Linked DNA regions of Homo sapiens: all the other regions are linked to region 3. The links come from fine-mapping of genetic effects on gene expression. A gene starts in region 3. Each other region holds a variant in brackets. All regions are shown on one strand. Distances are between the middles of the regions. Region 1 holds the start of HRH3 (histamine receptor H3). Region 2 overlaps MTG2 (mitochondrial ribosome associated GTPase 2). Region 3 holds the start of MTG2 (mitochondrial ribosome associated GTPase 2). Region 4 overlaps CDH4 (cadherin 4).

What was found. PIP is the estimated chance that this variant, and not a neighbour inherited with it, causes the effect.
Region 1: its variant is fine-mapped to the expression of MTG2 in left ventricle (GTEx, PIP above 0.99).
Region 2: its variant is fine-mapped to the expression of MTG2 in whole blood (TOPMed, PIP above 0.99).
Region 4: its variant is fine-mapped to the expression of MTG2 in prefrontal cortex (GTEx, PIP 0.99).

Annotation. Positions count from the first base shown.
Region 1 is chr20:62,212,761-62,220,859 of GRCh38, reverse strand. HRH3 (histamine receptor H3) reads left to right here and starts at 582. Exons shown (of 3, transcript NM_007232.3): 1 at 582-1,139; 2 at 2,203-2,369; 3 at 3,934-5,900. The coding sequence starts at 890. The coding sequence ends at 4,854. RefSeq lists a silencer at 368-477 and an enhancer at 6,037-6,537. The variant G/A (reference allele first, on the strand shown) is at 4,512.
Region 2 is chr20:62,198,371-62,206,469 of GRCh38, reverse strand. It overlaps MTG2 (mitochondrial ribosome associated GTPase 2), which reads right to left. Exons shown (of 7, transcript NM_015666.4): 5 at 7,618-7,836; 6 at 7,213-7,351; 7 at 2,902-5,787. The coding sequence ends at 5,393. Among named protein-coding and RNA genes, the nearest start is that of HRH3, 18 kb to the left of the region's middle. The variant C/A (reference allele first, on the strand shown) is at 3,318.
Region 3 is chr20:62,179,266-62,187,364 of GRCh38, reverse strand. MTG2 (mitochondrial ribosome associated GTPase 2) reads right to left here and starts at 4,337. Exons shown (of 7, transcript NM_015666.4): 1 at 4,308-4,337. It overlaps SS18L1 (SS18L1 subunit of BAF chromatin remodeling complex), which reads right to left. Exons shown (of 11, transcript NM_198935.3): 11 at 4,851-8,099. RefSeq lists silencers at 4,119-4,288, 4,295-4,479, 4,519-4,708.
Region 4 is chr20:61,315,688-61,323,786 of GRCh38, reverse strand. All of the region lies in intron 2 of CDH4 (cadherin 4), which reads right to left. Among named protein-coding and RNA genes, the nearest start is that of CDH4, 67 kb to the right of the region's middle. RefSeq lists an enhancer at 5,649-6,524. The variant C/T (reference allele first, on the strand shown) is at 3,972.

The DNA of each region.
Region 1 (8,099 bases), 33 kb before region 3:
GGTCACCCTGGACCCTGCACTGGGCCCTGTCCACACGGAGGCTGGCACCCAGGGTCCGTGCAAACGGGAGGTGGAGCGGACCCCTGGTCTGGGCACCGGCTTTCCAAGACCCCCTCCTCCCCATCCCTTCTCCTCCAGACGTTCCTTGCCCCGGAGACCCACATTCCCAAAACATGCACCGAGGAAATGCCCCGCAGGGCAAGTCCCCGGAGCGCGGGTGCAGGCGTTTCCCCCACCCCCACCCCGGGTCCCCACAGGCGCCAGGGCTCTCCATGATGACCGGGCAGGGGTCACCAGGGCCGAGGGCACGGGAAAGGCCGAGCAACCCAGACCCCGGCTCCGAGTGCGCGGGCTGACTGACCGCAGGCGAGCCCCCAGACCCGGTCAAGCCCCGGCCGGGCTCCCAGCCAGCTGCTGTGAGCGCAGGGGCTGGGCTCCAGGCAGCCTGGCGGGCACGCGGCGCTGTCCGTGGTGCTGCCGGCGCCGGGCGGGGCGGGGGCGGGGAGGGGGCGGGGCGAGGGCGGCAGCCAATGGCGGGGGCGCTGCGCGGGGCGCGCGGGGCGGTGGGCTGGGCGCGGGGCGCACTCGGCTGCGCGTTGCGCTCCGGCTGCACGGTCGCACCGGCAGCGGCTCAGGCTCCGGCTCCTCTCCCGCTGCAGCAGCCGCGCTGCCGGCCCCACTGGGCTCGGATCCGGCCCCGGCCCCCTCGGCACCGCCTGCTCTGGCCCCGGCCCCGGCCCCGCGGACCATGCGCTGGGCGCCCCCAGGGGAACCCGACCCGGCCAAGGGCCCGCAAAGACGAGGCTCCCGGGCCGGGGCCCCTCCCGGCCGCCCAGCTCTCGGCCGGCGCCCTGCCCCGCGTCCCGGAGCCGCGTGAGCCTGCGGGGCCATGGAGCGCGCGCCGCCCGACGGGCCGCTGAACGCTTCGGGGGCGCTGGCGGGCGAGGCGGCGGCGGCGGGCGGGGCGCGCGGCTTCTCGGCAGCCTGGACCGCGGTGCTGGCCGCGCTCATGGCGCTGCTCATCGTGGCCACGGTGCTGGGCAACGCGCTGGTCATGCTCGCCTTCGTGGCCGACTCGAGCCTCCGCACCCAGAACAACTTCTTCCTGCTCAACCTCGCCATCTCCGACTTCCTCGTCGGTAAATCCCCAGCCCCTGGCCGCTGGGGACCCAGGGGCGCCCAGCGTGGCCGGGCCAGCGGGGACTGGAACACGGACCTGGGTGGCTCCCGCAGGCACACGCCCCACCAGGGGACCCGGCCTGGGAAGGGGGCGTCCGGAGCCCATGGGGTGGGGGGCACAGGCGAAGTTCCTTGCCACTCAGGCCTCGGGACAGGGGCTGGGGAGAGATGTCCCCGGGAAGGGACACGGGCACTGGGCGAGGCGCAAGGCGCAAAGGCAGCGGGTGCAGCTCTGGCTCCTGCGCTGTAGCCAAACAAAGGCTGCTGCGGACTTAGGACGCGCGGAGGGCGCAGTGGGGCGGTTTAGAGAAGGTCTGGGGGAGGGGACATGGAAGGGGGATTTTTAGAGCTGTGTTGGGGGAAGGGACGGTGGGGAAGGTGGGGGTTGGGGGAGACGCTCGGAGGAGCGTGCTCTCACGTGTCCAGGCTCTGCTGCCGGCTGGGGGGCGGGGCACGCGGAGGGGGCTGGAGCGCCAGACACCTGTTGGGGCTGTGAGGTGCGTCTCCCAGACGCTCCAAGCCCGCTTGGCAGTAGTAGTAGCGGCTGGCGGCTGGCGGCTGCAACCAAGTGCCCTTTCAGCCAGGAGAAAGGCTTTCTCCTTGTCTAAGCTGAGACCGAGGGTTGTCCAGCGCCAGGGTAGGGGCTGGAGTCCAGCGGGGGAGGGGAGAAGGAAATTGTCTTCTTTCCTCCTTTGAGGGCTGGGAGGGCTGGACAGAAGTCCAGGGAATCCCGACTCCAGGCTCTCGGGGGTCTTGTGGTGGCCAGAGTTCCCCATGCCTGGATCATCCCTCCTGCCCCCAGGCCCAGGGGACACAGATAGTGCTGGGAGCTATGTGGGGGTGAAGGCTGGCGGCAGGGCAGAGTTTGTGGCTGACACCAGGTGGAGGGGTGGTAAGATGAGGATGGCTAGTTCCAGAAAAGCAGCCACCATGTGACCCCAGGTCCCGCCGGTGTCTGCGCTTAGGTCCGTCTGTCCCCTGGCCCCTGGCTGCATGGTCCCACTGTGGCCCTACTCCCCACAGGCGCCTTCTGCATCCCACTGTATGTACCCTACGTGCTGACAGGCCGCTGGACCTTCGGCCGGGGCCTCTGCAAGCTGTGGCTGGTAGTGGACTACCTGCTGTGCACCTCCTCTGCCTTCAACATCGTGCTCATCAGCTACGACCGCTTCCTGTCGGTCACCCGAGCGGTGAGTCCTGGGCTGCGGAGCTCCTGTTCACTCCGCAGGGACAGTCGGGACGCCCATGGGAGGCACCTGGGTGGGGACGGCCACTTCTGAGTTGTGGGCAGAAGTGGGCTTGGTCCCACTGGCTTTGCTGCTGACACATGGGCCACTCGACGGCCAGCTGCCCACTCGGGGCCATGGCTGCAGCCAGACTGACCTGGCCCAGGCAGGAGACGGGGAATCTGGATGCAGATGGTCCTGAAGGCAGGGCTGTCGCTGCAGCCCCCGCCCTGGGGCAGGTCCACAGTCCCCGGAGTTAAGGGAGGATCTGGGGCCAGACGCCCTGGGTGACATCCCTCCCACATGCGTGTGTGCAGCGTGCACACACACACAGGCCCCGGGAAGGCAGGCGGCAGATCCTGGCTCCGCAGATTTCCCTTTGTGGGAGCGGCCACCTGAGTCAGGGACCCTGCCCCACCCAGGCTCCCGCATCGGGGCCATGCAGCCCAGGGAGCCGCTGCTGAAGTCACACCTTCCCCTTCTCATCTCCTTGGCAGCTCACGTCCCCAGGGCTTTATGAGGGCCTCTGCAGGACTGAGGGCAGGTTGTTTGGTTCTAGCCTAGAAAGGCTAAGAGACAGGGTGCAAAGAGCATGGCTTTGGGTTCCTCTTGAGCCCATCCCCCTGTGGTCTCTCCCTCCTTTCCTGGAGCCACCAGGCATGGGGCACAAGGAGAGCTGCCACGAAGGGTAAAGCGGCCGAGCAGAGAGCCTGGCATGGGGGTGCTCTGCCCACCTCTCATTAGCAATAGCTGTGAACATTGCTCCCACCGTCACCAAGGTAAACGCCATCAGGCTGGTGGGGGAGGGTGGCAGGGGCTCTCAGGTCCTCCTCCTCGAGCTGTCCTACCTGAGACCCCTCAGTGGGATCCCTTGGCCCTCCTGCCCCCTGCCCCCACCAGCTGGTTGCTCTCTGCCCTGAGGAGGGCCCTGCCCTCTCTCCCTCTTCTTCCCAAGAGGCCCTGATGTCGATCTGGGATGCTTTGTTCTGTGGCGGGGCGGGGGATGTCTCCCAGCAGTGGGCCAACTTGTGGCTTCACCCCTGCACCTCCAGCTCCCAGGGGTGCGAGCACCTGTGCAGGAGTGGGGCTGGACCTCCCACCCCAACCTCTGCAGATGGCTCGGGCCTTTGCAGGATCAGGATGCATCATGTCAGAAACAGCTGTGTGTGCACGTGGTCTGGGGCTGATGCTGAGTCTGGTCCCAAGGGTGCAGGGGCCAAGGACAGGACCCCCAGGGAGCTCACAGCTGGTAGGGGGTGGTAAACAGGCAGCCTAGCAGAGAGTGAGGGTTCAGGTTGGTCCCAGGGAGCTTCTGAGGCTCTCACTGAGTGTGGCAGGGCACCAGTCCGGGACCCCAGTGGGGAGGGTTAGAGGAAGGGAGGGGAAAGAGGGAGGGAGGGAGGACAGGAGGGGAAAGGAGGAGCATTGCTGCTGAGGGAAGGGCCCACATAGGGGCCCACAGGCTACGGGGGCGCACCCAGCCCAATATTCCTTCCGCCCCGCCCCTGACCAGCCTGCCCTTCTGCAGGTCTCATACCGGGCCCAGCAGGGTGACACGCGGCGGGCAGTGCGGAAGATGCTGCTGGTGTGGGTGCTGGCCTTCCTGCTGTACGGACCAGCCATCCTGAGCTGGGAGTACCTGTCCGGGGGCAGCTCCATCCCCGAGGGCCACTGCTATGCCGAGTTCTTCTACAACTGGTACTTCCTCATCACGGCTTCCACCCTGGAGTTCTTTACGCCCTTCCTCAGCGTCACCTTCTTTAACCTCAGCATCTACCTGAACATCCAGAGGCGCACCCGCCTCCGGCTGGATGGGGCTCGAGAGGCAGCCGGCCCCGAGCCCCCTCCCGAGGCCCAGCCCTCACCACCCCCACCGCCTGGCTGCTGGGGCTGCTGGCAGAAGGGGCACGGGGAGGCCATGCCGCTGCACAGGTATGGGGTGGGTGAGGCGGCCGTAGGCGCTGAGGCCGGGGAGGCGACCCTCGGGGGTGGCGGTGGGGGCGGCTCCGTGGCTTCACCCACCTCCAGCTCCGGCAGCTCCTCGAGGGGCACTGAGAGGCCGCGCTCACTCAAGAGGGGCTCCAAGCCGTCGGCGTCCTCGGCCTC[G/A]CTGGAGAAGCGCATGAAGATGGTGTCCCAGAGCTTCACCCAGCGCTTTCGGCTGTCTCGGGACAGGAAAGTGGCCAAGTCGCTGGCCGTCATCGTGAGCATCTTTGGGCTCTGCTGGGCCCCATACACGCTGCTGATGATCATCCGGGCCGCCTGCCATGGCCACTGCGTCCCTGACTACTGGTACGAAACCTCCTTCTGGCTCCTGTGGGCCAACTCGGCTGTCAACCCTGTCCTCTACCCTCTGTGCCACCACAGCTTCCGCCGGGCCTTCACCAAGCTGCTCTGCCCCCAGAAGCTCAAAATCCAGCCCCACAGCTCCCTGGAGCACTGCTGGAAGTGAGTGGCCCACCAGAGCCTCCCTCAGCCACGCCTCTCTCAGCCCAGGTCTCCTGGGCATCTGGCCCTGCTGCCCCCTACCCGGCTCGTTCCCCCAGGGGTGAGCCCCGCCGTGTCTGTGGCCCTCTCTTAATGCCACGGCAGCCACCCTGCCATGGAGGCGCCTTCCTGGGTTGGCCAGAGGGCCCCTCACTGGCTGGACTGGAGGCTGGGTGGCCGGCCCTGCCCCCCACATTCTGGCTCCACCGGGAGGGACAGTCTGGAGGTCCCAGACATGCTGCCCACCCCCTGCTGGTGCCCACCCTTCGCAGTTACTGGTTGGTGTTCTTCCCAAAGCAAGCACCTGGGTGTGCTCCAGGCTTCCTGCCCTAGCAGTTTGCCTCTGCACGTGCACACACCTGCACACCCCTGCACACACCTGCACACCGTCCCTCTCCCCGGACAAGCCCAGGACACTGCCTTTGCTGCCTTCTGTCTCTTGCATAAGCCTCAGGCCTGGCCCTTTCACCCCTCTTCCCACCAACTCTCTCTGCCCCCAAAAGTGTCAAGGGGCCCTAGGAACCTCGAAGCTGTTCTCTGCTTTTCCATTCTGGGTGTTTTCAGAAAGATGAAGAAGAAAACATGTCTGTGAACTTGATGTTCCTGGGATGTTTAATCAAGAGAGACAAAATTGCTGAGGAGCTCAGGGCTGGATTGGCAGGTGTGGGCTCCCACGCCCTCCTCCCTCCGCTAAGGCTTCCGGCTGAGCTGTGCCAGCTGCTTCTGCCCACCCCGCCTCTGGGCTCACACCAGCCCTGGTGGCCAAGCCTGCCCCGGCCACTCTGTTTGCTCACCCAGGACCTCTGGGGGTTGTTGGGAGGAGGGGGCCCGGCTGGGCCCGAGGGTCCCAAGGCGTGCAGGGGCGGTCCAGAGGAGGTGCCCGGGCAGGGGCCGCTTCGCCATGTGCTGTGCACCCGTGCCACGCGCTCTGCATGCTCCTCTGCCTGTGCCCGCTGCGCTGCCCTGCAAACCGTGAGGTCACAATAAAGTGTATTTTTTTATTGGTGCTGATTCCTGAGGACTTTGTGGGGTGCTCAGAGCCTTCGTGCTTTGAGGAGAGACTCCAGGGAGTCCAGAAACCACTGAGAAGCAGGCGTGAGGATGAGGGCTCTGTGTTTTCTTCTAAGTCGGGGGACTGCAGTGGGGATGAAAGACCAGCCTGCCACACCAGGGTTTAATCCCAAGAAGGGTTTCATGTGCCCTACCGCCAGACCCCTGCACTTCTCAAGACCTGGCTGGCGGGTGAGGAGATGCAGCCCACGCCCTGCACAGGAGGGGCCCGCTCTGGCCCTGAGAACACAGACATGCAGCCTTCCTGCCCCCAGGACAGGTGCCTCATCTTTCTTGGTCAGGAGCAGGGTTGCACCCCAGCAAAACTTGGGACCCAGGGAGGATCATGGCCATGCCCAGCGTGTGCAGGGTCTGGGTGGCAAAGGGACTGCAGTGACCAGAGGGGAGGGATTGGGCTAGCTGGCTGGAGCTAGGCTGGAGGGGCTGCTAGAAGGGATGAGCCCTGGAGCGAAGGCATCTTTGGGAGAGGAGCTGTCCTGGACAAAGGCCTGGAGGGGGGACTGAGGGTGCAGGATGAGGACGCTGGGAGGAAGATGGAGGGAGGGAAGGTAGCACCCTTCGCTGTGGCCCGTGAGCCTTTAATCCCGAAGGCCGTTGCACCTGCTCCAGGGGCCCCAGGAGAGGGAGGCAGACACCAGCCCGAACCCAGGCAGATGCTGGCCCACACCCAGGTGCTCAGAGGCCACTTGGAAACCAGACAAGCCCAACCTAGGTGAGATGCAAACTCGGTGGGCCAGGTGCCACCTCCCCCAACGTCCCGTCCCCCAGCTCCAGCCTCCAGGGTCCTGACGTCTCTGAGCCCACTCTACTTCCGACAGTGCAGCCTTGCTAGGCACGCTTCTGCTCATATCTTTCCTTCCTACCCAGGGAGAGAATCTCGCCATTTTCTGGCTACTCTCACAGCCAGTGCTGGGGGTGGGTGGAGGGTCCACCTGGGCAGGGAGACCTGCATCTCCCCCTCAAAGCACCGCTTCCCAGCCATGCCGGCTCTCAGCACTGCAGAGGGGAAGCTAACAGCAAAATGCCTCACCTCCAGACCTTTTTCACGCCCTGAAGCTAGAAGCTAGACCTGCACTTTTGTTTTCCAAACTCCCCGGAAACTTCTCCCAGAATCTGAAGCTCCACACCCCCCTCCAACCCCCATCCCCACTCTCCTTCCCCCCCATCCCTGCTCTCCCTTCCCCCATCCCCGCTCTCCCTCCCCCATCCCCGCTCTCCTTCCCCCACCCATCCCCGCTCTCCTTCCCCCCCATCCCTGCTCTCCCTTCCCCCATCCCCGCTCTCCCTCCCCCATCCCCGCTCTCCTTCCCCCACCCATCCCCGCTCTCCTTCCCCCCCATCCCTGCTCTCCCTTCCCCCATCCCCGCTCTCCTTCCCCCATCCCCGCTCTCCTTACCCCCCATCCCCGCTCTCCTTACCCCCCATCCCTGCTCTCCCTTCCCCCATCCCCGCTCTCCCTCCCCCATCCCCGCTCTCCTTCCCCCACCCATCCCCGCTCTCCTTCCCCCACCCATCCCCACTCTCCTTCCCCCACCCATCCCCACTCTCCTTCCCCCCCATCCTTGCTCTCCCTTCCCCCATCCCCGCTCTCCCTCCCCCATCCCCGCTCTCCTTACCCCCCATCCCCGCTCTCCTTACCCCCCATCCCTGCTCTCCCTTCCCCCATCCCCGCTCTCCCTCCCCCATCCCCGCTCTCCTTCCCCCACCCATCCCCGCTCTCCTTACCCCCCCCATCCCCGCTCTCCTTCCCCCACCCATCCCCACTCTCCTTACCCCCCATCCCCGCTCTCCTTCCCCCACCCATCCCCGCTCTCCTTACCCCCCATCCCCGCTCTCCTTCCCCCACCCATCCCCGCTCTCCTTCCCCCACCCATCCCCGCTCTCCTTACCCCCCATCCCCACTCTCCCTCCCCCCATCCCCGCTCTCCTTCCCCCACCCATCCCCCCTCTCCTTACCCCCCCATCCCTGCTCTCCTTCCCCCACCCATCCCCCCTCTCCTTACCCCCCATCCCTGCTCTCCTTCCGGCTCCTGGACTTCTGACTGCCTCCCAGACACTCAAGTGACCCCTCCGAGACAGGCTCCTCTTCCTGGGCAGAAGCCACACAAGGCCCCTCTTAGTGACAGAGGGAGGGGCAAG
Region 2 (8,099 bases), 19 kb before region 3:
ATCGTGTGTGACCTCCTGGCACTGGCTCTCCCCGGCTTGACACCTGCGGTCCCCAGGTGGACGCCATGCACGCAGAGCTGCACCCCGCCCCCGCCAAGCACTGCCGCACCCCGCGGCTCTGCAGCCTCTTTAGCGGCACCAGGACAGGTCCCCGGCACGTGTGTTCACTGATGAGACGCTCCGGTTGCCTCAGCATGTCTGCCCTTCAGGCCTCCATCCCGGGGCCAGCGCCGACCCGGGCACTGCATACAGACAAACGAGGTCTCTGTTCTCCAGGAGCTTAGGGCGGGGGGGCGACGGCGGCTAACGTGAAGTGTGGAAAGTGCGTGCACGAGAGGGTGGTGGGCCCAACTGTGCAGAGCCTGGGCGCGTGTGGCTGTCTTTGGCTTTTTGACTAGAGGGCATTTCACGGGGTGTCTGGGCAGGGCACTGGGTCACAGGGATCAGCAACACCAAAGCCTGCAGTCCAAGGAGTGGCCTCAGCATGGCTCAGACATAGGAAGGGGCAGTGGGGCTGGTGCTGTGGGCACCAGGGACTCCCAGTGAGGGGCCTGGCTTCCTGGCACAGCCACAGGGGAAGACTGAGGGGCCCGGGCACCAAGTAGGGGAGACATTAGCAGGCCACTGCCATCGTCCAGAGCGGGGTGGAGGTGACAGGCATGGCGGGACCTGGGGTGGACCCGAGGGCAGAGCTGCTGTGCTGGCGAGGTGAGGAGGCAAAGGCCCCACGCGAGACTGAACTCAGTATAGCACGTGCGCCGGGAAGCACACACGACCACAAGATGGGAAGGGAGGCTGGGAGTGGAGGCTCACACCTGCAGTCCCAGCACTGTGGGAGGCTGAGGCGGGCAAATCGCCTGAGCTCAGGAGCTCGGGACCAGCCTGGCCAACATGGTGAAACCCTGGCTCTACTAAAAATACGAAAATTAGCTGGGCATGGTGGTACATTTCTGTAATCCTAGCTATTCAGAAGGCTGAGGCAGGAGAATCGCTTGAACCTGGGAGGTGGAGGTTGCAGTGAGCCAAAATCGCGCCACTGCACTCCAGCCTGCATGACAGAGCAAGACTCTGCACCACCCCCACCGCCGCCAAAAAAAAAGATGGAAAGGGACATTGCTTGGGGTCAAACAACGTGCCCCCAAATCCACATCCACAGAACCTCAGAATATCACTATTGGAAATGGGGTCTGTGCAAATGTAACTAAAGATCTCAAGATGGGACCATCCTGGGTTTAGAGAGGCCCAAATCCCACAACTGGCTTCCAGAAGATAAGAGGACAGACACACAGGGGGAAGTTACATGAAGACAGGGCAGGGACGGGAGCCTTTGCCACTGCTAGCCGAGGATGGAGCAGGAAGGACCTCCCTGGCCTTGAGAGGCCTCACCCCCGACAAACAAGAGAATCCACTTAGGTTTTTTTTGTTTTTTTTTTTTTTTTTTCTTGAGACAGAGTCTCACTGTGTCGCCCAGGATGGAGTGCAGTGGCGCAATCTTGGCTCAAGTGATCAGGGGTTCAAGCGATTCTCCTGCCTCAGCCTCCTGGGTAGCTGGGACTACAGGTATGGGCCACCACCCCTAGCTAATTTTTACATATTTTTTAGTAGAGATGGGGTTTCACCATGTTGGCCAGGCTGGTCCTAAACTCCTGACCCCAGGTGATCCGGCCGCCTCGGCCTCCCACAGCGCTAGATGACAGGTGTAAGCCCCCATGCTCGGCCAACTTCTGTTAAGTCACCCGGTTTGTGGCACTTTGTCATAGCAGCCCCAGGAGACTAATAAGGAATAGATAAAACTTCATTTTCAAATGGACACACTACGTTTTCCTACAGCGCTGCTGTGGAGCTGGGCTTCTACAGGGGATGCTCAGGGCAAACCCCTCCTCGCCCGTGTCCAAGTGGAAGGTGGCAGGGCCCCAGGGCACCCAGACTCCACCCCACCTGGGCTGCGGCAGGAGAACTGCTTGAACCCAGGAGTCGGAGGTTGCAGTGAGTGGAGATCGCGCCACTGCACTCCAGCCTGGGTGACAGAGTGAGACTCCATCTCTCTCTCTCTCTCTCTCTCTCTCTCTCTCTCTCTCACACACACACACACACACACACACACACACACACACACACACACACACACACACTGAGTTTCAGGCCAGGCGCAGTGGCTCATGCCGGTAATCCCGGCACTTTGGGAGGCCAAAGTGGGCAGATCACCTGAGGTCAGGGGTTCGAGACCAGCCTGGCCAACATGGTGAAACCTTGTCTCTACTAAAAATACAAAAATCAGCCAGGCGTGGTGGTGCAGGCTGTAATCCCAGCTACTTGGGAGGCTAAGGCAGGAGAATCGCTTGAACCCAGGAGGCAGAGGTTGCAGTGAGCCGAGATCGCACCACTGCACTCTAGCCTGGGCGAAAGAGTGAGACTCTGTCTTAAAAAAATAAAAACAAAAGTAAAAATAGTTTAAAACTAGGAGCAGCCTGAAGGCTCCTCATGCCAGCGCCATCCTCCGTGCACCTGCCAGCGCTTACTGACGCCGTCTCTGGGTCAGGTGTTCTGAGGCTGCTGGGGATACACAGAGACCCTGTGTCCAAGGCAGCCCACACATGCTGACTGTGGGGGGGTTGGCCTGCACCCGCGGTCCCTTCCGTAACTAAAGACTGCGGTGTCGGCCGCCTCAGGCATGGCTACTAAAGACCCGCACAGACGGCCACATAGTGTACACTCCAATTACAGGATCTGTCTGGAAGGCAGGTCCCTGGGGACAGAAGGTAGACGGGTGGGTGCCCGGGGGAGGGGGAAGGCGGGTTCACGCTAACGGGCACAGGGTCTGTTTTCGGGGTGATGAAAACGTTCTGGAATTTGCAGTTTGACAGTTGCACAACCTTCTGAACATACAAAAAAACCACTGAATTATATAAAGTGGTGAATTTTATGGTATGTGAATCATATATCCCATTTGAAAAGCAGACTGACAAAAATTTGTTTCTAGGCAGGAAACAGGAAACTGGGGAAGCCAAGTGTAGCTTTACCCTACTCAGGGAGAACAGTGTTGGAGAGAAAGCTGTCAGCTTTTAGAACGCGATGGCAAAAGCTGTGTGTGTGGCAGGGAGAAGTCTTGGGGCTTTTTGCAGCAAGGAAAGTTCTGGGCAACCTTCGTGGCAGTGACTCCCCCTCTGGAGCCTCAGCTTCAGCAAAGGACGAGGGCATGTCCCCAGAGCAGCCACAGTCAGGCCCAGATCAAGGTTTCAACCCACGGGGAGGCTGGGCTGGGGGCTCCGTGCAGGGGTCGAGCCACAAGGCATCTTGAGCCTCCCCTGCAAGAGCAT[C/A]AAGATGAAAGCCAGGGATAATTAACGCCGTCAGGCCTGGGGCGACTCCACAAAATCCTTTGTGGCGGCCTGAAAGAAAAAGCAAATAGATGCAAAACCCATCTCTGGTTTCTAGGATAGAAGGACCTTTGAAATTATAAGACATTAAAATAAAGCTTCGGGTAAAAGGACTGTCATGTTCTAGCTGCAGATTTGATGTGAGATCAAAACGGAATTGCTCCTGAAAGCCCAGGCACCGGCCTGCTGTGCAAAGCGCGCCCCACCCCAGCGTGCAGAGACGCGGCCCCGGACCCTTGCGGCTCATCTCACCTGAGGCTGCCGTCTCTCCTCCAAGGGCTGGGGGTCCCCTTCTGATCATCCTTCTCTGCTTCTTTGTCCCCTCCACTTTTTTTTTTTTTTTGAGATGGAGTCTTGCTCTGTCGCTCAGGCTGGAGTGCAGTGGTGTGATCTCGGCTCACTGCAAGCTCCGCCTCCCAGGTTCACGCCATTCTCCTGCTTCAGCCTCCCGAGTAGCTGGGACTACAGGTGACCGCCACCACGCCTGGCTAATTTTTTTGTATTTTTAGTAGAGACGGGGTTTCACTGTGTTAGCCAGGATGGTCTCAATCTCCTGACCTTGTGATCCACCAGCCTCGGCCTCCCAAAGTGCTGGGACTACAGGCATGAGCCACCGTGCCCAGAATGTTCTGTTTTTGTTTGTTTGTTTGTTTGTTTTTTGAGACAGGGTCTCGCTCTGTCACTCAGGCTGGAGTGCAGTGGTGCAATCACGGCTCACTGCAGCCTTGACCTCCCAGGCTCACATGATCCTCCCACGACAGCCTCTGGAGTGTCCCCTCCACTTTCTTTCTTAGGGGCCCCTCAGGGACATGTCAGAGGCCTGAGACTACTTGGGGGATGTCTATGGGCCAGGCAGGCTGCCAGCAGCTGAGCTGTCCTTGCCCTGGGGCTCCTCTGCAGTCAGGGAGACACCAGGCATGGGCCTGGCTTGGATGCATCAGTACTTGACTGCAAAGACTTAAACCACAGACAGGAAAGGCGCTGCTGCAGTCTCGACGGTCAAATGCAGGGCCCCCTCAGCTGCCATCCCACTGAGGGGCGAAGGCCCATCATCTCCCTTCGGCTCGGTAACTGCCTGGCGTAGCACAAGGGTTCTCTTTAAATCCCCAGCAAATGGAGCTGAGTGGAAATTCCGCCCCATATTACCAGGCACACGTCTCCTTCCACTCCTCACTATACCCTGCCCATGCCACGGCCGCCTTCTGAGAATAACGCTGACAGTTCCATGGCCCACAGCCCCTCTAGTTAACTTGCTGTGCACACGGCAGCCCAGCCAGAAACACGCAGCCAGGTCGGATATTGGGTGCATTCAGTCGTGAAGCCTGAGGCTTCCTGGCTCCCACTGAGCACAGAGAAGTGTTCTGAAGGACAGGAAGCAGCTGGCCTCACTGCTCTTCTCAGACGGCTGATGGAGAAAAGCTCACAGCTGCCTGCGCCGCTCTGCCTGGACTTGCATCCTCGGCCCCACCCCTTGCGCAGCAGTGAGGCCCCCCGAGACACTGGTGCCTGGGCTTGCGGTACCGCAGGGCTGCTGGACAACGGGCCAGACGCAGCCCCAGTGTGGATCCAGAGGTCTCTCTCCGTAGCAAGCCATGGAAGCACGACGGGCACTGTGCTGAGAACCCTGGTCTGCACTTCTGACCTGGGGCTCTGGCTGTGCGGTTCTGCTGAGCTCATCCGAGAGTCCACGCGTGCATGGCGGAGACCTGAGTCAGCGGCAGGGCCACCCCGTTATGGGCACCCCAACCCCTTATTAGGGGTGTTAATCAGCACAAATGAGCAACTGGCTCATCAGTCGGTGCAGGCTGACAGGTGCAGGAAATACGGAGGGCAGGCGGGGTAGGGGGCACGGAATGCTTCCCAACATGAGGGCATCTCAGGCCAGCAGGCGGGGCCCAGAGACCCAGAAGCACCACAACTCCCCCGTGTCCACAAGGCACTTTATGCATTCAAAACCACCGAATTCACACCCAGGTTTGCTCAGACAGAGGCCCAGAGGCGACCCCGCTCTGGCGTGGCTACCACCTGAGCGGCTGGCGGCCCTGGCCCAGCTCGGCCTCCGCGTAGGCGTCATACAGCACCTTCAGGTGCAACAGCAGCTGCTCCAGGTTCTCGCCGGTCAACGCCGACAGCACGATGACCTCCTGTCCCAAGTGATCCCGGAGCTGGGACAGATTGGCTTGGGCTTCAGGGAGGTCAATCTTGTTTGCGACGATTGCGTGGGGCCTCGCAGACAGGCCCTTTTCATACATCTCCAGTTCATATTTTAAATCGTCAACTTGAGTCCACGGCTCAGGCTGAGAAAGATCCACCACGAACAAGAGAAAGCGGCAGCGCTCGATGTGCCTGAGGAAGGCGGACCCCAGACCCCTGTTCTGGTGGGCGCCTCGTATGATGCCGGGGATGTCGGCCACTGCAGGGAAGACAGGGGCACACGAGGTGACCACTTGGCACACCCAGCACCCAAGAGCGCCTTCCACCTCGAGCCTGGGAGAGAAGGCCTGGAGCCCACTGCGAAGGCGGATTTCCTGAGTTCTAACACTTTCCTTTCAAGGAACGCCTTGAACTGAAGCCATTTGATTTAGCACCTGGGTGATTCACTGGGCCAACTGACACCTGAGGAATTCAATGCTTGGAGATGTTTGGGAGACCAGCGTGGCGATGGATCTATCTAGTAGAGTACATTTCATACCTTCTCTTTCTGCTTCTAATAGGATTCAAAAAAGAGGAAAATGGCTGCCTGTACTCTACTAATCATTTGATTACTGATAGAAATTTACATGTAGAGTACTCTGCAGATATAAAGTGCCATCCAAATAACCTTACCAGCAGGCTTACTATTTTTAATGGGTGTATTGTCTTCTGGGAAAAAGTTTTATTCTCTCAAACGGCACAAGGAAAGCTTTTAAGTCACGTGTTGTGATGCTGCTGAGCTTCCACAGATGAGAGGGGACAAATAGAGTGGGAAGAAATACTGTCCTCGGCTGGAATTTCAATGCAGGTTTCTGAACTGTAACTGACAGATTCCTAGGGGATGGGGTGGGAACCTGATTTTCATAGAGAACAGGCTGATGAAAATTGTTTAAATTAGGGCCAGGTGCAGTAGCTCACGCCTGTAATCCCAACACTTTGGGAGACCAAGGTGGGGCGGGGGGCAGATCACTTGAGATCAGGAGTTCGAGACCAGCCTGGCCAACATGGTGAAACCCCGTCTCTACTAAAAATACAAAAAAATTAACTGGGCGTGGTGGCGCACGCCTGTAATCCCAGCTACTTGGGAGGCTGAGGCAGGAGAATCACTTAAATATGGGAGGTGGAGGTTGCAGTGAGCTGAGATCGCACCACTGCACTCCAGCCAGGGTGACAGAGTGAGACTCCGTCTCAAAAAAAAAAAAAAAAAAAAGTTGTTTACATTAGGAAAAACAATGCTACTTTTTTTTTTTTTTTTTTGAGATGGAGTTTCGCTCTGTCGCCCAGGCTGGAGTGCAGTGGCATGATCTCGGCTCACTGCAAGCTTTGCCTTCTGGGTTCATGCCATTCTCCATCCTCAGCCTCCCAAGTAGCTGGGACTACAGGTGCCCGCCACCACACCCAGCTAATTTTTTTGTATTTTTAGTAGAGACGGGGTTTCACCATGTTAGCCAGGATGGTGTCGATCTCCTGACCTCGTGATCCGCCTGCCTCGGCCTCCCAAAGTGCTGGGGTTACAGGTGTGAGCCACCACGCCTGGCCAACAATGCTACATTTTAAACAGAAAGCTAAATTTAAGAGTTACATCATTACTTTTCTGAATTACATCATTTAAATCTAACCTTTGGGAGAATTCTGGAAGTTCTACCTGCTATTTGTAGGTGGCCTTCGTAGTGGACGATCCCGACGTGGGGCTTCAGGGTGGTGAACGGGTAGGAAGCCACGGCGGGTCTGGCGTTTGAAATGGCCCGGAGCAGTGAGGACTTCCCGGCGTTGGGGAATCCCACCTGGGGGAAAGAGGGAAGACGGTGGCACGGCCCGCGGCAGCACCTTTGTTAGCGCAGAGTCTGTAACTAACTGGGATTGGAGGGAGGATTTCAGGGCTGGGGGAGTCACAAGGGCTCATGCTCACGACCAAGTCAGCAGTGTACTGATGGGAAAAAGGTGAGTCGCAAAGCTGTTCTCTTCCAGGCCACTGGCAAATCCCCATTGAGAAAAGTGGATTTTCTAGAGCTGAGTGTGTGCAGATGCTGTTGGCAGTGGGGACACCTACCATTCCGGCGTGGGCCACCGTCTTGAGCTCCAGGTGGAGAACTCGCTGCTGTCCTGGCTGTCCAGGGGTACAGGTCACAGGGGCACGGTTGTTGTTGGCCAGGAAGAAGCGGTTGCCTTTCCCTCCTGCCCCGCCCAGCGCGGCAATGTACTCATCTCCCACGCAAGACAGGTCGGCCACAACTCTGCCTCCCTCCTTCACCAGCGTGCCCACGGGGACCTGGGGAACAGCAGGCACTCATCAGCTGAGCTCTACCAGCAGTGAGGAAAGGAGGCCTTAACCCATTCCTGAAGCAAGCGCTAAGGAAAGAAGACAAGAGCGGACTGTGCCCCGGGCAGCTGCCCGCCCCACTCACCTCTGCCAACAGCTCCGGAGCACAAGGAAAAGGTCCCAGTGCTCCAGGGCTTTCACGGGGCTGCGTACACACCCTTCTGACTGCACAAAGGGCTTTTTCAAATAGTGTTTCTAAAACGTTAGTGTGA
Region 3 (8,099 bases):
CTATCCAACTCATCCTATGAGGCTAGTACCAAAATCTGACACTAAGAAAAAATAAAATTATAGACCATACCCCTCATGAATATAGATGCAAATAACTCTTAACAAAATATTACCCAATTGAATCCAGCAGTTCAGAAAGGATCACACATCAAGACCTAGTAGGGGTAATCTCAGAACACAAGGCCACATCAAGCAGTCAAAACTCAGCCCAGGCACTTCACTATATCAACAGGTGGTACCACCGTCTCAACACCCACTCATGAGGAGGAAAACAAAACATCTCAGCAAACTGGGAACAGACGGGAACATCTTCGCCCTGATAAGGGCACTACGTAGGGCCGGCCGACAGCTAATCACATTTAATGAAGAAATACTGAATGGTTACCTCCCAAGATGGAGAAAAAGGGCCTCCACACATACCACTGCTATGCAACAATGTCCTTTCACACACTGAAATAAAGGGGGAAAAAAGGAAGAAGTAAAACTGTCCCTGTTTACAGAAGAGAGGACAGAGTTCCACAGAGAATCCCAGGGAAGGCTGGGCACGGTGGCTCATGCCTGTAATCCCAGCACTTTGGGAGGCCGAGGTGGGCGGATCATTTGAGATCAGGAGTTCAAGACCAGCGTGGCCAACATGGTGAAACCCCATCTCTACTAAAAATATAAAAATTAGCCAGGCGTGGTGGCACGTGCCTGTAGTCCCGGCTACTCGGGAGGCTGAGGCAGGAGAATCGCTTGAACCTGGGAGGCAGACGCTGCCGTGAGCCGAGATCACGTTACCGCACTCCAGCCTGGGTGACAGAGCAAGACTCCATCTCAAAAAAAAAAAAAAAAAACAAAAAAAAAAGTCCCAGGGAAGGGAACTGAGCAAGATGGCATGTTATCAGGCTAATATAAAAAAATCAGTTGTATTCTTAAATACCAGCCGCAAACAACTGTAAATTAAAATTAAGAAAAAACCCCATTTATGGTAGTGCCAAATACAAAAAGTACCTGAAAATAATTTCACAGTAAACCTTCAAGACCTCTACCTCACTACTTGCAAAATACTGTTCTAAGTATTTTTCAGGGATTAACTCATTCAGTCCTCATAAAACTCTGTGAAGTAAGTCCTTCATCATCCTCATTTTAAAGTTGCGGAAACTGGGCAGACAGGTGAAGAGACTTAACCCAGAGCTATCAGATGGGAAGGCTCAGGGGTGGTGCATAAAAACAGGTTGGGGAAAAACAACTCGGGCTCATCAACACAAGCATAGCCACGGCTCAGCCTGCTGGAACGTTACACCATCCAGCCCGGATATTCTGGAAACCAGGCTTCCTGATGCAGGTGACATGGAACCTGCAGATCAACCGCAGAGAAGGTTGCAAAGCCAACCAGAGACCTGAACTCGGAGTCTTGCCTAATTTGCTTCCTCCTTTTTGCCCTTTCAATTTCTCTTTGGAGGCCCGCTGAGTGCTGTGCTCTCTCCCCTGCCGGATGAACAAATCCCACTGTTTTCACGCTGCTCTTTGGTGTCTTTATTTTCCTTCCAACAAGGCTGTCCTTGACCTGTCCAGCACAGTCCCCACTGGCCAAATGTGGCCATTTGGCTAAAATTAACTGAAATGTAAAAACTCAGTCCCTGAGGTAACATCTAAGTGCACACAGCCACATGTCACGAGTGGGTACATATGGGACAGCACATATTAGAACACTGCCCTCATCACAGAAAGGTTTTTTTTTGAGACAAGAGTCTCACTCTGTCTCACTCCCAGGCTGGAGTGCAATAGCATGATCTCACCTCACTGCAACCTTCGCCTCCTGGGTTCAAGCAATTCTTGTGCTTCAGCGTTCCAAGAAGCTGGGATTACAGGCACCCATCACCACGCTCAGCTAATTTGTGTACATACATATACATGTATATATATGTATGTGTATATATTTTATTTTTTATTTTTTATTTTTATTTTTTTTGGAGACAGTCTCGCTCTGTCGCCCAGGCTGGAGTGCAGTGGCATGATCTCAGCTCACTGCAACCTCTGCCTCCCGGGTTCAAGGGATTCTCCTGCCTCAACCTCCCGAGTAGCTGGGATTACAGCTGCATGCCACCACGCCCAGCTAATTTTTGTATTTTTAGTAGAGACAGGGTTTCACCATGTTGGCCAGGCTGGTCTTGAACTCCTGATCTCGTGATCCGCCCACCTCAGCCTCCCAAATTGCTGGGATTACAAGCATCAGCCACCACGCCCTGGCCATTTTTTTTCTTTTTTATTTGAGGCAGAGTTTCACTCTTGTAGCCCAGGTTGGAGAGCAATGGTGGGATCTTGGCTCACTGTAACCTCCGCCTCATGGGTTCAAGTGATCCACTCGCCTCAGCCTCCCGAGTACCTGGGATTACATGCACCCACCACCACACCCAGCTCATTTTTGTATTTTTAATAGAGACGGGGTTTCACCGTGTTGGCCAGGCTGGTCTTGAACTCCCGACTTCAGGAAATCCACCTGCCTCGGCCCCCCAAAGTGCTGGGATTACAGGCGCGAGCCACCACACCCAACCAATATATCCACTTTTAAATGTATTCCTAACGATAATACCCTGCGAGGGGTAATACTGCATGCCGAGCTATCTTCCATTTGCTTTTCCAGACCAGCTTTCCACCCTGCCCTGTGCTGTGTGTCAGGAGCCTGAGCTTGCCCCATAGGAAAACCTACTGGGACCTGGCCCTCTACCAGAGACTGGAGGCAGGAGCAGGAGGCCGGGACATGGACCTCCCTGCCCACTCAGACTGAGGCTCACACCTCCAGTCCAAGAAGCCCTCCCCAGTGACTCTTCTCCCTGTCCCGATCACTGCTGCCTTCCCTGATCCTTTGGAGTCCAGGAGTAGAAACTCCACTGCCACCAGTTCCAGGCTAAAGGACCAACTGTCATTAACCTGCACTCTGCCTTTGCAAACGGTCCCTTTATAAACCCTCCTCAAATCCTCCTGTGAGCATGAAACCTGATTTTTTTTTTTTGGGTATGTTTTTGAGACAGAGTCTCGCTCTGTTGCCTAGGCTGGAGCAGAGTGGTGCGGTCTCGGCTCACTGCAACCTCCACCTCCCAGGTTCAAGCGATTCTCCTGCCTCAGCCTCCCCAGTAGCTGGGATTACAGGCGCCTGCCACCACGCCCGGCTACTTTTTTGTATTTTTAGTAGAGATGGGGTTTCACCATGTTGGCCAGGCTGGTCTTTAACTCCTGACCTCGTGATCTGCCCGCCTTGGCCTCCCAAAGTTCTGGGATTACAGGCGTGAGCCACCGCGCCCAGCGGAAACCTGATTCTTGACTTTACATTTTTTATGCCCATCTAAAGCAGTGGAGGCTGAGACTCACAGAGGTTCAGTCACTTGCCCAAAGTCACATAGTATCCTCTGGCCTCCCTGGCATGCTGCTGACACCTGCATTTTACGGCAGGAATCTTCTCACTGAGGTTCGCCTACACAGACTTCCCAAGGGACTAAGGCCAGGATAATTTCAAAGGAATCCATTTTCTGCCCAAGTTTCGCTACGTTCTCTCTGCTAAAACAGAACTGCCTGAGGACGAACCTGCGTTTAAAACAATTTGAATTCTCCTTTCCCGTCCCCCTTTTATAATGGGTCCTCCCCTTTACAAAAGAAAGGTATTTCTCTAGTGACACTGCCCAACAACCCCTCTAATTCCCACCTACAGGTCTGTGTGAACGCCGTTCCTCGGTATCCACAGCTACGAGAACGTAAATGGGAATAGAACGGGTAACCCGCTCTCACTGGGCAGAAGCCAGCCACGGACAGTGAATTATCTGGAAATGCGTCTCCCTGAGGCGCGTTTACAATACAAAACTTTATTGTTGTTTTATCATCCAAATGTGTATATATTTATGTTGTTTTGTGCAACTGTATACTGCCAATAATCACTTTAAAATGTTTAATACTTAGAGCGCTGGATCAAGGCAAATTCCTAACAACTTGACTCGGAACTCACACACGGCACCCATCCCGTGACAGAGCACCACCGGGGTGGCTGACAAGACTTCTGACCCCAAAACGCGGTTCTGCGGAGAGAGTGGGGCAGGACCGGGGAGCAAGGCGCCGCTCCCCACCGCCCGAGCGCTCGCTACTCCAGGGCCGCAGCGCTCGGTCCCGCCGGGGTTCGCAGCCCGGCAGCCCTCCAGGCCTCTCAGCTCCTAGGCCGGGGCCTCTCCCGCTCCCAGCGCCCCGGTACCCCGCGGCCCAAGCCGAGGCCCCTCCTTGCGCCCGGGCCGCGACCACCCCCCAGGCCCACGCTCCCCGCTCCCCGCTCCCGCACTCACCGGCTCGGGAAAGCACGTCACTTCCGGAGCGTCGCAAGCGGCCGACCACTTCCGGGGCCTTTTGGCTCCGGAAGCCCAAGGCTTGCCCAGTGCGCAGGTGCAGAAAACACGCCGACGGACCGAGAGGCGACCTTGTCCCTGGTAGCGGAAGCAGGAGCAACGGCAGGAGGGATGCGGAGCGCTCAGCTGCAGCCGCGCTTCTCGCCGGCGCCCTCGCTGCCCGAGCACAAGGACAGCCGCCCCGCCCGTTCCACCCGGTGCCCAAGGTCCCCCAGCTTCTCTGACCCCTCCGGCGTTTGCGGAACCTCCCGGGTCTGACGAGGACACCGCCGTTGCCCGAGGAGGCTACGGGGCAACGCAGAGCAGGCAGTGGGGACCGCAGGGCAGCCCCGGGGCGCCGTCCCCACCGCCCTTACCCTGGCTTCGCCTTGCCGCCGCGGGGAATCCGGTGCGGACGCACGCGAACTCTGCCCGGGAGCCGAGGTGACGATCTACCTGGTCTCGGTAATAAGTATTTGCAAAACACATCACACCAAAATCCCGTTAACTTCATGAAAACTCACTTTATAGGATGATTTTTGAAGAACCAGTTTATTAAGAGATTACACCAAAAGCATAAACAATTTATACGTCAAACTCCGACTGAAAAAAAAATAACCGATAAGGATGTTTTTTAAATGTACTGTACTCACAAATAACAAGACAAATTTGACCTGTTCAATAAATAGAAATGAAGTGGCTAAAAATGTTTAAATGGAAATGGAAAACAGTCGTCTTCTTTGTACAGTTTTGAAGGGGTGCCCCCTATTCACGCCTACACGTAGAAAAACCCTGACAAAATCAGAGGTTCACTTAACACTCCAACCATATGAGCGTATTAAGGTTTCTTTTCAGATCTTAGGAGATCTTGTCCACCTTAATCCCATTCACAGATCTTAGGAGATCTTGTCCACCTTAATCCCATCATAAAGACTGTTGGCATGAGTTCTGATGTACTGTTTTAATATGCTGAGTACTGTTGATTCAACAACAAACCTTAATGGGTGATGAGCTTTTGCATACCAATATGAATTTGTCAGCACTTCTGAAAACTGGCCATCATTTTTCAAATTCACAATTTGCTGGATGTCAGGGAACAATAGGAAGAAGAATGAGCGTCAATTTTCATGTCTTCCTTTGCTTCTTCACTGGCCTTCCATAGAAGTAGTCAGAAAAAAACAAAGCACCATCAACCACACTTCACAAACAATTCATGTTGGCCTAAGCTTTGCTCAACATTCATATGACAGAAGATAGAATAATGAAAAGGAACTGCTGGCATCACTTTCCCCATAATATTACATAAAAATGGACAGCACATTAAATAAACATTCTGTTATTAATCATTAAATATATTAACACCAAAAATCATGTATAAATTAGGAAATAAATGTACAAACTATTTTGCAAAGTGCTTTTTAAAATATATACACAACATTCAAGATATTCTTAATGTAAGACATTTCAGATTGAAGTTTTGGGGTAAGTGTCCTTTTCTTTCAGAAAGTATTATTAATACAGCACTTAAAAAAACACACAAACACACAAAAAAGGCATATTCCCAGATTGGCAAGGAATAAAAATAAACTATCTTCACAGTTATCTAAAATGTTTAACATTTTCAGTGGGAAATTTTAGTCCCCGATTGAGTTTGCAAATTAGGTCTATGAAAATTGACAGGAAAAGAACACAATCAAGGGAGATGACTCCCTAACTGAAATTGCTAACGCGTTTGTCAATTAGCAATTAAGAACTCTCATTTCGGTGATCGAATATGAACACATACGTTTATTTTTGAGCCCTTACCAGTGTTAAGGGTTTTAGAAACCCTTAGTGCCTACAAAATAAACACTTCTCTCCCCATTTGTGCGTGACATCCGTCTCCTAGGAGAGGGGAGAATGTCCTAGAACAGGACTGGTATTCAACACAGGCAAGTCCTTTAATCTGTGCCTCAGTTCTTCATCTCTAAAATGGGAACTGTTACCTGCCTCCAGATTTCCTCATAGGGGCTGTCAGAATTAATTCAAGCAAAACACATAAGTGACTTATAAATTCTAAAGCACCCGACTCTGGATAAAGAATTAATTTTAACTTATTTATTTATTTATTTATTTATTTTTTTGAGACGGAATTTCACTCTTGTTGCCTAGGCTCGGGTGCAATGGTGCGATCTTGCCCCACCACAACCTCTGTCTCCTGGGTTCAAGCCATTCTCCTGCCTCAGGTTCCCGAGTAGCTGGGATTACAGGTATGCACCACCATACCTGGCTAATTTTGTATTTTTAGTAGGGACGGGGTTTCTCCATGTTGGTCAGGCTGGTCTCGAACTCCCGACCTCAGGTGATCCGCCCGCTTCGGCCTCCCAAAGTGCTGGGATTACAGGCGTGAACCACCACGCCAAGAATTACTTTTAACTTTTAAAACAAAACATCAATTAAAGAGAAATATCGTTATTACTAGGCCTCATATATCAAGCATTGGATATCTCTTGTATTTTCTTGGTAGTTCTTGGAAATCTGTCAGCATTTATCCAAAGATTTTTTTAAAAGGATTCATAGCAAATATGAATATTATTATTCCAACTAAAGGTTGATCAAATGTCCATGCTACTTGTTAATTGAAATGTGGGATTTTTTTCCTTTGACCATACTTTTGCAAGTGTGCTGTCTTTAATGTTCACACAGAATTTAAATGGGATTTAATGTCTTAGAAATGTAAAAATTACTCAAGTTTCTCTATATAAAACCTTTACTTTTCATTAGAAAGAACACAGTAATGTAACTGGATGTGACTTTCAGACATCCCTAAAAGAAAAGAAATGCTTGCTTGGAGATCTGAGCAAGTAGGTCCTGGAAGAAATAATATAAAATAAACAACTTGCCAACTGTTGGGAAGATTTGGTTTGAATATTTAAAATTACCTATCAACTTAGAATTGGGCTTATTAAATATTCCAATCCCAGAAATGACCATCAGCTAAACAAGGGTCAAAGCCAGAGTAATCTCTGAGGGCCCACTTCCCAGAGAGCTGCCCCTTTCCTTCAGCAATACCGCTGGCCCTGGGTTAGGCAATTTGTCCACGGCCCTTAGGGATTCATATTTATTTGGAATACAGTCACTGATCCCTGTTTACTTTTTAATACAAAAACATGTACCTTTTTGGATAAACGGAATTGGCGAGAGACAGGCAATGGGCAAGCTCTGGAAGTGGCCATCTGTGGCCTCTCCCGTGGGAGATGTTTATCCTTTTCGTTACGTAACAGAAACTGACCCAACGCACAGAAGATGCCCTCCCACCCACCCCATCGAGGCACAGGAAGAGGCTGCCCTCCAGGGGCTGCATGTGTGTCCAGCTGTGGCGTAGCCAGTTAAAGAAAAGTTGACAACCCACACTACAACACTGCATGAGGAGGAAAATGAGACCTAACGTCTGTTGACGGGAACAGGTGGACTGTGGTGTCCTCGAGATCTGTCCTGTCCCTGGGCACAGAATGCTCTGATGACAAAATGACCCCCAAAGCTAGCTAGAAACATTGAGAAGGGGGCGGGGGACAAAAAAAGGATACCTCTCCGTGTACCGACATACAATACTATACACAGCACCAAAAGTATCACACCACCAAGCGCTGTCTCACGCCAGTGGTGTGCGCTCGGCGTCATACCCAGCATGAAATGAGCACGCTTCACATGCAGACGTGGCACTGGGCGAACAGGTAACCAACATGTCACAATTCACCAGAGCTGCCGCCAGCC
Region 4 (8,099 bases), 860 kb after region 3:
CTAAAGGTGACGGCAAGATGAGAGGCCCCTCCTCTCCAGGGAGAGCCCCCTTCAGTGTTCCTGCATAGCCACAGTCCCTGTGGCCCCAACCTAGAAACCCAAGCATCCAGAATGTGCTCTGATTGCCGAACTGGTGACTAAAACACCCACGAAGACGCCAGTCTTGGTAAATTATCACCGTCAGGGAGCAGGGGTGGGGAGGGGTTGCAGGCCCGCGTAACATGACAGAATGGTGGCAGAAGCTGAATGTCACTGGCTCCGACGTCAGGTGGCCAAAGAATTATAGGCATCACACATTATTTTGTGTTTGGTGTATTGTTTCTTCCTGTGCATGGATTCAGCCAACTGAATAGAACTTTCCAATCAGGCTGCACGTGAGCCATGAATGCCTGGTGGAGGTGAAGCACTCACTCGATGAAGACTTTCCCAAACATCCCCTCCTGGCAGGCTGATGAACAAATGTGTGATGAGTTCATGCAGAGGCCAAGACGAGGGGACAGGGGCTGACCTGCCACCCACTCGGGACACTGGGCTGCCCTGCAGCTAGTGGCAATCACTCCTAACGAAGAGAAGTCCTCTAGGTGCACACTCCCCTAGGGAAAGCCAGCTGACTCTCAGAAGACCCCGTGCCGCAAGGGAATCCTCATGCCTCCTTGCTATCCTCTTGCCACCGTCATTCCTAATACTCAAATTTGGAGAGGCGAGGGGTATATCCGGCAGTGCGTCCTGGGCAGATAAGCTCAGGCCCTTGGATGCTGGCTGGAAGTCTCAACTCTGCACCTGTGAAATGACAGGGAGGATCCTTGAATGTTCTAGAGCTCAGTGTTCCTATCTGTAAAAGATAACAAGACCTCCTGACAGCCTGGGACATAAAAGGGGACACCAGGGATAGAGCCTGTTGTGTGAAGAGCATCCAATACACTCTTGAAGAAATGCACTGCTGCGATCAAAGGCCTCTGCACAAGTCCACTGGGAACTGAACCAGGGGCCCCCACCCCAGTCTGTCACTTTCCTCTCCAGTTGTGAGTGTTCCGCTCCCTGCCATCTATCTGTTCCTTCCAGGATGCTACCCCTCGGTGGCTGCGTCTCAGCGTTGGATGAAGTGAACATATTGTGTGGCTGGCAAACAGCCTTGCCTGGAAAGGGCTCTGGGACAAAAGCTGCTCTGGGCACAGCTTCCTGCTGCCTCAGCACACCCCAGGATCCCGAATGCTGCAGTGACAGCCACTGCACACACCAGGACCCAGGAGGGGATTCAGGCACCAAGGAAGGGACTCATCCTGGGCTGTAAAGGGAGACAGAGAATCTTGACTTCTTTCTCCCTTCATGCCAGTCTGGGAAGGAAAGGGGAGGCGGCTCAGATACTGCAGGAGCCAGGTCTCCGCTCAGTTCAGCTGCAGGTGTGGGCTGCGGATCCTGATGCCGGCACCTCCCAGCTGCTGCGGGAGAGACTGAGCCTGGTGCACCCACAGAGCCAGGCGAAGCCTCAGGTGCAGAATTAGCAGCCTCCCCTCTCCTGTGTATGTGGGGAGTTGGAGGGGATGGGGGGTAGTTAGTCAAATGAGGAACGTTAGCTCCCAACCACAGGCCAGCAGAGTGCAAAGCACACAGACGGCACCAACCCCATTGCACTGAATGAATAAATAACCATCCCCGAAGCAAGTACAAGGACCCGGAAGAACTGCTGGACCCGAATCCTGGGGTTCGTATCCTGGGGGGACCTCTGACCAACCACGTAACCTCAAGCATGGGGTTTCATGTTCAATGTCACCTTCCTGAGCCTCAGTTTCCCCACCTGTAAAATGGGGATAATAATGCAGCTCCTTGTTATATTATTATATAATATTTATTATTATAATATATGCTACAATATATTATTCTTATATGTTATATTGTTATGCTTATTGTAAGACTGCAGAGAGGACTGAGCTAAGGAACATGAGGTGAGCGTCTTTGGCAGCTATTGGACAAGGGCTCAGTGCTGTCACCTGTTAACATCATGGAAACTAAGTCATCTGTTGATCACGGCATCATGTGACATGCGTGGCACGCAGCATCTCCCAGGCCTGTGCTGAGAAGCACCAATTCTGCAGGCTACTCCAGGGAGGCGGCTCTGCCATCAAATAGTGGCAACGGCTGAATTTGACGAAGCCGGAAGTCCTCCGCTCACCGCACGTCTACATGGAAGGTGTCAGCACATACATCAGGTACCCAAGTACCCAAGGGAGATGAGGCCACGTGGTGTCTTCCAAACACACTGACCCGTGGAAAAAAATCCTTATATTCTCTCTCACACACACACACAATGTGAAATGTTTTAAGGAAAACTTAACAACATTAGCATTCCAAGGCTATATTTTTTAAGACATCAAAAATTAAAAAAAAATTTCCAGCAAAAAAGCAAAGATAATCAAGCCGTTTTTTGTTAAGAGTAACCCCGCCTCTGGAATTAGCAGAACCTGCCTCGCCTCCTCCCTCTGCCCTCCTAAGGTGAAACCCGCTCTTCCCTAGATCAATGAGAAGACTCTATTCATTTCCCAGGAAATTAACTGTTCTAATTTGCAGAGTTAAATAAACGCCAGAGCTCTCTGACCTCAATCAACGACTAATGAGACCCACAGAGCCTTCTCTCTCTTCCTCTCTCTCGCATGCGCTCTCGAGGTGGAAATGTGCGGTGTGGCTGACCACAGGCGGGACTAGGTAGGTCAATGCCACCCCACCGAGGACCCACGGTGTCAGGGGACCCTGGGGAAGGACCCGGGGGTTTAAAAGGCTAGAGCAGCTGGACAGAGCCAGCCTGGAGGAGAGACCTGGGACACTTCCCCACAGCAGGGGCAGGAAGAGGAGCTCCCCTGGCTCCCGCCTAGGCCTGGAGCCTGTGCACCCCGCCCTGCCCACATACTGTCTTCACGCCACAGCCCTGCCCACCCCTCCAGCCACCTGGCCGTGTCCCCACACTCCCTCCCAGCACAGGACCTCTGCGCACGCTGCTCCCTTTGCCCAGGCCCCTTTCCTGCCTCTTCATCTGCTTGGCTCCTGTTCATCTTCAGGTCTCACTAAAGCCAGGCTTCCTCGACCTCAGCAGTGCTGACACCTGGGGCTGAAGGGTTCTCTGCTGGGAGGCAGCCCTGGGTAGGGCACTTGGCAGCACCCCTGCTCCCACCTCCCAGATGCAAATAGCACCCCCATCCCCCACTCACAAACATCAATGTCTCCAGATATTGCCAAGTGCTCTCTGGGGGCAGAACTGTCCCAGTTGAGACCCTCTGGCTGAAGTAAAACATTTCATGGTAGTGGCTGAGACCACCAGGTCACCGCTCCCTGTGGAGGCCAACCCAACCCCACCGACACTCCAGTCTCACCCACACCTGCATGGTTTTGTGGTTGGTGCTCCTCTTGCCCACCAGGCTGTGAGCCCCCAGGGACTAGAAAAATGACACCCTGTGCCTAGCACTGGGTCTGACCCACGGCAGATGCTCAAAGATGCTGGTTGAATGAGCAAATGAACAATCGTGACAAAAACTGAAACAAGGAACGCAGGGAGAAGACACAGTCAGCATGCATAAGACGCCTTGGGAAGAGACCCTCAGGCTCTTCTGGAAATCCATAGGCCCTGCAACATCAGCAACACCGAGGCCCAAATAAATGCAGAGAGGGAACAGTCCCACCTGGGAGATGCTGCAAAAATACGAGCAATTTTGCAAAAATTATTGTGGGAAGAACATTTAACATGAGATCTATCCTCAACAAATTTCAAGTGCTCAACAAAATACCATTGGCTGGATGTTCTGCAGTGGATCTTCAGAATCTATTCACCATTTTTTTTTTTTTTTAGATGGAGTCTTACTCTGTCACCCAGGCTGGAGTGCAGTGGCATAATCTCGGCTTACTGCATCCTTCGCCTCCCAGGTTCAAGTGATTCTCCCGCCTCAACCTCCTGAGTAGCTAAGGACTACAGGTGCCTGACACCA[C/T]GCCTGGTTAATTTTGTTTTTTTTTTTTTTAATTGAGATGGTGTTTTACCATGTTTTGGCCAGGGTGGTCTTGAACTCCTGGGCTCAAGTGATCCATCCACCTCCACCTCCCAAAGTGCTGGGATTACAGGCATGCGCCACTGTGCCCAGCCAGAACTTATTCATCTTGTATAATTGAAACTTTATATCCCTTGAATAGTGACTTCCCATTTCCCCTGCCCCAGCCCCAGGCAACCACCTACCATATGATCCAGCAATCCCACTTCTGGGTATTTATCCAAAAGAACTGAAATCAGATCTCAAAGAGACCTCCGCATGCCCGTGCTCATTGCAGCATTATTCAGCAAAGCCAAGATACGGAAGCCTTGATGAGCCCACAAGGTGGACGGATGAATGAGGCTGCACATGTGATGCACTCTTAACAGTGCGATCTAGCCCTGCTTCCCGGTGGAGCATAACAGGGAATTTTTAATCGATGAATTCTCTGACCTGGGAAATGTTAGCAATCCCAGTGTGTCCTTTTGGCCCTACACACGTCACCTTCCTGAGCCTCAGTTTCCCCACCTGTAAAATGGGGATAATAATGCACCTGCTTATTGTATTATTATATATTATAATATTTATTATAACATGTTATATGTTATATTTTTATATGTTATATTATTATGCTTATTGTAATACTACAGAGAGGGCTGAGCTAAGGACCATGAGGTGAGCGTCTTTGGCAGCTACAGGGCAAGCGCTCAGTGCTGTCACCTGTTAAGATCGTGGAAACTAAGTCATCTGTTTATCACGGCATCATGTGACATGCATGGTGTGCAGCATCTCCATATCAGTGTGTGGTGCCCCACCATGGCTCAGGCCGATGGCAGCATCATTGCGGGCAAGGAGGGGTCTCTGCCCAGCTCTCTACCACCGGCATCTGTGCAGTGGCAGGCACAGAGAGGGTGACTGGGCATTTGTGAATAAACGAATGAAAAGAAACATTACATGGGAAAAGGGGCAAGTCACCACTTCAACTCAATCAGTGCATATCCAGGGATTACTCTCTCTGTGCCAAACAAGTGGTAGTAATTAATAACATAAAGCCAAAGAGCTCAACACGCTTCTTGACCTCACTGAGCTTCTAATTTCCTCATCAGTGGCTATGCATTGAGCATGTATTCTGACTGAGTATCACTGATTCCAGGCTCCTCCTGGGCACGAACCAGGCCTTCTGGACCATGGTGCCCTTCTAGAGCGCATGCCCACATCATAGCCTCCAGCAATCCCTACCCGATTCATGATCTAATAATAAAACCAAATGGATAAGGTTTTCTTAGGAGAGTCCCAGTTAATCCTAAGAGATGAGGCAAGGGGTAAAGGAGAAAAAAAAAGAACGTCAGTTCAAATCATTGTCACACGCTTAGGTTTTTGAATCATTCAAAGCAGTAAATCTTGGACAGGATCAAACAAAACCCAAGGCTGCATCCGCTGGCACTCACTGCTGGTCAGCTGAGCACTGTGAATCCCAGGCTGGTGTCTTCTGCAAAGCCGGGGCTGTTGGGAAACTTCACTCCAGATGGAGAGGAACATACGGGAGAGTCGTCAACGCAAAGCAAACTGCTGTCTAAACAGGAGCCGGGCAGTTTAACATCTATTAGGATGGTGAGTTCCCCTTTCACACATCCTGCCACCACAACAGCACAGGGTGGGGGCGCATGGGTCCCACCTCCAGGTTTCAGGTGAAAAGTGTCCCTCCAGCCGGGACGGAGAGCAGGAAACCACCCTCCAGCCCTTTAGTCTCTCTGGGTCTCTTAACCTCTACCCATTTAGGTTTGCTAAGAACAAACACAGTTGGCGTTTTCCTCCAATAAGTGTGCACAACACTTCACAGTTGCAATGGCTGGATCATTCTGTTTTTCCCTAAATGCCATGGGGCATTAACTCTACTTTTACCCCACTCTGACATGTCCCTTGAGGAAACTCGTGCAAATTCACCCTTGCTGGCTGGCTGGACACCCACAAATTCACACGGAAAAAACGCTTCCCAGAAGTGCCCTTTGTCTAGAACCGTGGGGGTCTCGGGCATGGTGGAAAGGGGGTCCCTGCTCCCAGGGGACACTGGGCAACATCTAGAGGCATTTTTGGTTGTGGCACCTAGGGGAGGGGTGCTACCAGCCTCCAGTGGGTGCCAGCCTGGGAGTCTGCTCAACACCATACAGTGCACAGGACGCCCCACCACAGACTCATCCAGCCCCCCATGCCTGTGGCGTCAGGAAACCTGGTCTGGAGCAATGGTGAATGCAGGCTTTGGCAGGCACGTGAGCTGGGAGATGCAATGGGCCACAGACCTCCCCATCCAATCAGGTCACGAGGGTGGGGGCTGCTAATAAACACTTCAATGCAAACAGATTTGATAGAATTTACAGTGCAGGCACCTGGAGACTCAGTGGCAAAGGCGCCTTAATTTATCCCATGTTAGAAATAGCAGGTTATTCGGGAGGCTGAGGCAGGAGAATGGCGTGAAACCGGGAGGCGGAGCTTGCAGTGAGCCAAGATCAAGTCACTGCCAGGACTGCGGGCGCTCGCCACCACAGCTGGCTAATTTGTTGTATTTTTAGTAGAGACGGGGTTTCACCGTGTTAGCCAGGATGGTCTTGATCTCCTCACCTCGTGATCCACCCACCTCGGCCTCCCAAAGTGCCGGGATCACAGGCATGAGCCACCGCACCTGGCCAGGAAATATATTTGAACATGGTATTCAGATTTCTAAATAGTAATAAAAATAATAAGTATATAAATAAACTAAAAAAAAAAAAAGAAATAGCAGGTTACGTGCAAGACTTATCACTCCACTGCAAGGCACGTCTTTAAAGGCTGCTGCCAGACGTTCAGGTACAGAGGCTGCACGCACCTGAGGGAGGCTGGAGGACCCACGTCCAGGCGCCTCCCCACCCAGCCCTGCTTCTCGGCTGTGACTATCATGCTGTACAAATGGCTAAAACAAAAAGGGTGGCCAGGCCCCAGCTCTGGGCAACGATGACTCAGAAAGAGAAACTCCCCTCACCCGAAAAGCAGAGGCGGCGGCTCTAACGACAGCAAAGTCCAACTTCACTTTCATCCTTTTTCACATGGCCAGCATTTCTTCACTACCAATTAACCAATCTGTTTGATCAAACCTTCCACCCATCAGTCAGCAACATTTGTGGCCTACTAAATTAATTGCGCTGAAAAGCAACCACTTTCCCTTTAACAAGCAAAGCGATCCCTGCTTCGAGGATGCAGCAGATGGCAGATGGGAAGGGAGAGAGACAGAAACCTGATAAGAGGGAGCTGATGACTTTATTCTTCCTCCCAGCCAAAGGTTTGTTCCGTCTCTGTTGGAACAACACATTTGTTCTGCCGCCTGAACTTGATTTAGGGGGCCAAGTGGACTTTTTCAAACTTGTTAGAGCCTTCAACTTATCGACTTAGGTCAGCGCGGCGGTCTCTATCTGCGGGCCGCAGTGCCTTTTCCATCTCCGATGTTCCAGAAAATTAGATTTTCCTTGTCCTAACTTCTTCCGATGGATTGGATTTTGAAAAATGCAGATCTGTCAAGAAGTCTATCCAAAATTGCCCTTCTGTTTGGGAAGTAAACTTCCATTTCTTGTTTCATAGACTGCCCTGAAACCTGCCCCATCCTAACCCAAAGGAACTTGCCAACAGCACCCAGGAGGAAGAGGAGGACGTGAATTAGGAAAACTGAGTCCTGTCTTCAAAGGGAAGCTGCCAAATCCTTCCTCCCCCTGGAGAGCCCCTCAGTGCCTGCATCAGAAACCCAGCTTCCAGGGCCCTGTGGAAATCGCCTGTTCCCTTGGAAGTCCTCCACCCAGGGGCAGATCACTTGAGCTCAGGAGTTTGAAAGTAGCCTGGGCAACATGGTGGGACCCCATCTCTACAAAAAATACAAAAAACAAAAAATTAGCTGGACATGGTGGTGTACACCTGTAGTCCTAGCTACTCAGGAGGCTTATGTGGAAAGATTGCTTGAGACCATGAGTTTGAGGCTGTAGTGAGCTATGATCGCACCACTGCACTCCAGCATGGGTGACAGAGCAAGACCATGTCTTAAACAAAAAATGATAATGAAAACGTAAAAAATCA